Linked DNA regions of Homo sapiens: region 2 is linked to region 1. The links come from fine-mapping of genetic effects on gene expression. A gene starts in region 1. The other region holds a variant in brackets. All regions are shown on one strand. Distances are from middle to middle.

Region 1 (2,822 bases):
AGCTAAGAAAATGGTACCCTCTCTTTCTGATGCTTTGGCATCTCATATTCCTTTTTTCATAAATCCAGCTCCCGGAACTCAAGAGTTCTGTGATCTAGAATTGTCAATCTCAGGTTGGGAACACCTGATTCCAGTGCAGAAGCTGCAGGGCAGCTGGTCATTAGAGTAGGATATGAAAGTTCCCTTTCTTATCTCCACCTTCCTGTGAGGTCCCTGGGGAGAAAAGGGGCAAGATCTTGGTCTGGTAATCAATTTTTCATTGTCCTGGATCGATCTCACTTTTGAGTGCAATTGCAAGAGAATAGGCCTGAGTCTTGCTGTAGTAAGTTAGCAACTGGCCTTATAGCATGATGAGGATCTGACATGGATGGTGCTGGGGGTCTAGATATTCTCAATAAAGAATCATTGGTTTGATAGCAGAAGGTCTCCTGGCCAACGGCCTATCATCCCTTTGCTTGTCTTCAACACACTGGGAACATATGGGCTCGAGCTTTTTGCTTGTTCCTTAGCTATCTGTGTGGTGCTCCTCCCTCTCCAGGCAGGTGGATGGAATATATAAAATCCAGACCCTGAAGGCTTCCTAGTAACACAGAATATGCATACAATTTCATATATACATTCGATAAGACATGTACACTCTCACTCATATAAATAATTATTTCCATCTGCATCTAAATAAAAACCAAACACAATTCTCCAAATTTACATGGGACCAAGAATCCAGCTTTTTAGTTGCCTGTATTTGTCCCCTTAAGAATTTTACTACTAACCACCTCCTCTCCCACCTCTTGATTTACAGACGACATTCCCCCTTAATGCTTTGACATAAAGGTGGGCACACAAGAGTGGGTTAGGACATTGAAACAAATCATTCTAAAACTTCTGTTATATTGACATGTAGAAGAGACCAAGTGATATGTGAATAAAAGGCATATTATAAAAAAGAGCTAATTCACATTTAGTTTGGCATGTGCCTATGAAGAGCCTTCCTGGTTAGCCCTACTCCTGCTTCCTAGGACAGAGGAAAATTTTCCCCACCACATGGGAGCACAATTAAATATAGAATCCCAAAATCTAGACTCTATATAAGACCCAAATTTCCAGATCATTAAAAAAATTAATGCGCTCCTTCCTATGGGAGAGACTGCATTCTTATAGGAATGTGGCTTTATCTATGGCTTCAGTAGACCCAACTTTTCATACAAGTCTAACATCCCTATAAGGAACATACACACAGTATCACACGGAAACACACATCCCACATTTAAAAATATGGTTTTTATTTACTTTTTTGTTTTCTTACTAGTTCCATCCAGAGAACTTTGTCCCTGTTTTCTGGAAAATTATTTTATTTTATTGTAGAGCCCTGGACCCCTAAATATGTCCTCCTTCCCCAGCTGGCCCAGGGTGACTGCGAGGATAGAGTTGACATCACAATATCCCTTTTCTGAGGATTCATGCCCCTGGTGGGTGGGGTAGGAGGAGGGGTAGCCCTAGGAGAAGTCATCACCACTTTGTCCACCATGGGTGAATTATGAATCAGTAGCTATGCCAGGCCTCAGCTGGGCCACATCTGGAGAACTGGGGTGAGGGCACAACATCACAAAATATCTGGCCCCAGTCTGGTCACTCATCCCTTTTAGGGCAACAAGGAAACTATCCTGTGGCCTGAGAGCACAATACCTGAGACAAAGGCCAGCAGAAACATTTGTCTGCCCTCACCCTTTCTGCCCCAGCTTCCACCTGCTCCCCATCTGCCCACCCACTAAAGCCCATGTGGCATGCCATCTCTCGAACATCCAGGATGTCCCAGAGTGGATGTCCATCAGGTCTGCTGGCAGACAAAAATATCTCTTCAAGTGCCACTCGAGTGATAGTGAAGACTGCAGGCAACCAGAAAGACTTTATGGTAGCTGATGACATCTCGGTAAGGCAGTTCAAGGAGATGCTATTGGCTCACTTCCAATGCCAGATGGACCAACTAGTGCTGGTCTTCATGGGTTGCCTTCTCAAAGACCATGACACACTGAGCCAGAGGGGCATCATGGATGGCCACACCATCTACTTGGTCATCAAGTCCAAGCAGGGCTCCAGATCTCTAGCCCATTCCTTCCGGGACCTGCCAACGAATGATCCCTGCCACCGGGACAGAAACACCAAAGGAAACAGCAGCAGAGTGCACCAACCAACTGGTATGAATCAAGCTCCAGTGGAACTGGCCCACTTTGTGGGGTCTGATGCACCCAAAGTGCATACCCAAAACTTGGAAGTGAGCCACCCAGAGTGCAAAGCACAGATGCTGGAGAATCCTAGCATCCAGCGGCTTCTGTCCAACATGGAGTTCATGTGGCAGTTCATTTCAGAACATCTAGACACGCAACAATTGATGCAGCAGAACCCAGAAGTTTCCCGCCTTCTTCTTGATAATTCTGAGATCCTATTGCAGACTCTGGAGCTGGCCAGGAACCTTGCTATGATCCAAGAGATAATGCAGATCCAACAACCTTCACAAAACCTTGAGTATCCACTGAACCCACAGCCATATCTGGGCTTAGAGACAATGCCAGGTGGGAATAATGCCCTGGGTCAGAACTATGCTGATATCAATGATCAAATGCTGAACAGCATGCAAGATCCTTTTGGAGGAAACCCTTTCACAGCTCTCCTGGCAGGACAAGTGCTAGAACAAGTCCAGTCTTCACCCCCACCTCCACCACCATCACAGGAACAACAAGACCAGCTCACACAGCATCCTGCAACCCGAGTCATCTATAATAGCTCTGGTGGTTTCTCTTCAAACACCTCAGCCAATGACACCCTTA
Region 2 (2,822 bases), 130 kb before region 1:
CAAAGAATAAAGGGAAGTGTGTTGAGCTTCTCATCTAAGAGGAATGCTTCAAGCGTGTAAAGATGAGAAGAGCTAGAACAACTAGATCTGCAGTAGTCTAGTGGTGGCAGGTGCTAGACAGGGAAGAGAGCAGTTTCTAGGCGTAGATGGAAGAGATAAGGGAGGATGGACATTGTGTGCTGATGATGTGGTCATATTTGATGGAGAATAACCAAGAGACTGTTTCATGCTATTATTCGCAAATTCATTGCCCTAACATAGTCCCCTCCTCTTTCTCTGTTCTGGAGAAAAAATTGACGTCAGTGCTGCCTCCTTTGCATATAGTCAATATTATGAATTTTTATCATTTCAGAGTGGACAGACATCCAGTGCTACTGTGGTAAAATGATATTTCCAAAAAAGCTGTGCCTCTGGTGGTTGGAATTCTGGGAAGAAACATGAGGGTGGTTGGTGTATTTGGGGATATGTGTGTGTGTACGTGTGTATATGTATATTTATATAATATACATGTATATTAAAATGTATACATTTATATGTATTATACATATATAATCTAATATATTTATGTGTACTATACATATGTATATATGTATTATATATAATTATAAATTACACATATGTTATAAATACATACACATATTAATATACATTTAATATACATGTTTTATATATCTATATATATATCTATATATATCTATATATAGATATATATATATATATTTTTTTTTTTTTTCCAGAAGACTAGATGAGATGAAGAGAGCAGTTGTCACATCTGGGTAAAAGTCTCATCATCAGGGCAAAGAACAGGTGGGAATGTATCCAGAGAATCAACATACAATGAGCAAAAGTGAAGCTTTTCCTAGACTTGACCCTCATCAAATCTCCTCTGTCCCCACTCTCTTCTGAAGAAGGAAAGGTAGGCCTGTCTTTTTTTCTTCCTGATTGTAGAACTGACCCAAAACATTAGACCTTCAAAAGTACTCTCATTCTATGCACTTGAACACATATAATTTTATAATGTTTACATCATTTTATTATTGTGGTTCTACGGAATTTTCTGCTTCTTCCTGATTGTAAGATTGTTAATTTTAACCTATTCATTTTACAGAGATTTAAAACCTAGCATTGAATTGTATGACAATGTTTCATAATTTTTTGGTGATCTATATAACAAACCACTTTTTTCACA[G/C]TTTTTTTTTTTTTTTTTTGAGACAGAGTTTTGCTCTTGTTGCCCAGGCTGGAGTGCAGTGGTGCAATCTCAGCTCACTGCAACCTCCGCCTCCCAGGTTCAAGCGATTCTCATGCCTCAGCCTCCCAAGTAGGTGGGATTACAGGGGCTCGCCACCACATCCAGCTAATTTTTGTATTTTTAGTAGAGACAGGGTTTTGCAATTTTGGCCAGGCCAGTCTTGAACTCCTGACCTCACGTGATCCTCTCTTCTCGGCCTCCCAAAGTGCTGGCTGGGATCCCAAAGTGCTGGCTGGGATTACCGGCATGAGCCAAGGCACCCAGCCTATCGTACTTTTTTATTGTTGTACTAACTTAAATTTTTTTTGTCAAATATAATCACTTTTTTATCCTAACATTAGCAGGAACAGGAACATCTCTGGCAAGAGTGGGAACAATACAGAGACAGGAGGAAGTGCCACACTCTTAAATAACCAGATCTCCCAAGAACTCACAGCAAGAATGTATTCATTACCATGGGGATGGTGCGAGGCCCTCCATGAGGCCCCCATGATCCAATCACCTCCCACCAGGCCCCACCTCCAACACTGGGGATTACATTTCAACATGAGATTTGGGCAGGACAAAAATCCCAACTATTTCAAGGATTCTAGTTAATATTGTATTGTCTACTGGGAATTTGCTAAGAAAGATTTTAAATGCACTAACCACCACCCCCCCGACACACGGTAACTATATGATACAGTGGATGTATAATTTACTTGGCTGTAGTAATCACTTTACCATGTAAGTGTGTATCAAAACATCATAGTATATATATCTTAAATATGTACAATAAAAAAGAAAAAAAACAGTCCCACTCTCAGTATAAAAAGTTCTATAAAACAAAACTAAAATTGGAGTGGTCTTAACAGTGGAGTCTGGGAACTTGAAAAATGAGACTTCAGTAAAATCAACTACTATTCCTCTGAAGGCCACAAAACTATTGCACAGGACATTACTACAGCTCACACTTTTTAGCAATCATGAGAGCAAATATTTATTATGTTCCAGACACTAAATCGATGCATTACATTTAGAGACACTTAGTTTTACACAGTGATCTTAATAGTTAGGTACAGTCTTAAATCCCAATTTATATTTCAGGAAAAAGAAACTGAGAAAGTATTCATCATGATTAGAAAACAACAGGCAAGGTTTGAGCTCAAATACTCTGGACATAAAATCTTCACTCTGAATACACATATTGCTCATATTTTCCTCTCCTTGATTCCTTGATGTACCTGGGGTATCCTGAGCAACACACTGACATACCCTCCAAGAACCTTTAGTTGATGTTGGTGGTGGTCATGGGGGTGGTTCCTATGGACTACCTAGGTAGCATGGATGGTGGCTAACAGGCTTTGGGCCTCTTCATATCAGTGATAAAGTGAAACATGGATAAATGGGAAGGCAAGGATGTTATACCCATACTGCTGTGTCTTTAGGAGGGATTAGGTAACTTTCTCTGAAAATATGAAAAAGAGTAAATGAATAAATAAGCATCTCTCATAACTCAAGCCAAATACACCATACATCTCAAGGATGAGTAAAAGTTCTAAAGAAGGGAAACCACAAGGAAGCAATGGTGTGA

What was found. PIP is the estimated chance that this variant, and not a neighbour inherited with it, causes the effect.
Region 2: its variant is fine-mapped to the expression of UBQLNL in whole blood (TOPMed, PIP 0.96).

Annotation. Positions count from the first base shown.
Region 1 is chr11:5,515,394-5,518,215 of GRCh38, reverse strand. UBQLNL (ubiquilin like) reads left to right here and starts at 1,517. Exons shown (of 1, transcript NM_145053.5): 1 at 1,517-2,822. The coding sequence starts at 1,775.
Region 2 is chr11:5,643,779-5,646,600 of GRCh38, reverse strand. TRIM6-TRIM34 (TRIM6-TRIM34 readthrough) reads right to left here. Exons shown (of 14, transcript NM_001003819.4): 14 at 2,203-2,822. It overlaps TRIM34 (tripartite motif containing 34), which reads right to left. Exons shown (of 8, transcript NM_021616.6): 8 at 2,203-2,822. It also overlaps a transcript of TRIM5 not described here. Among named protein-coding and RNA genes, the nearest start is that of TRIM34, 20 kb to the right of the region's middle. The variant G/C (reference allele first, on the strand shown) is at 1,190.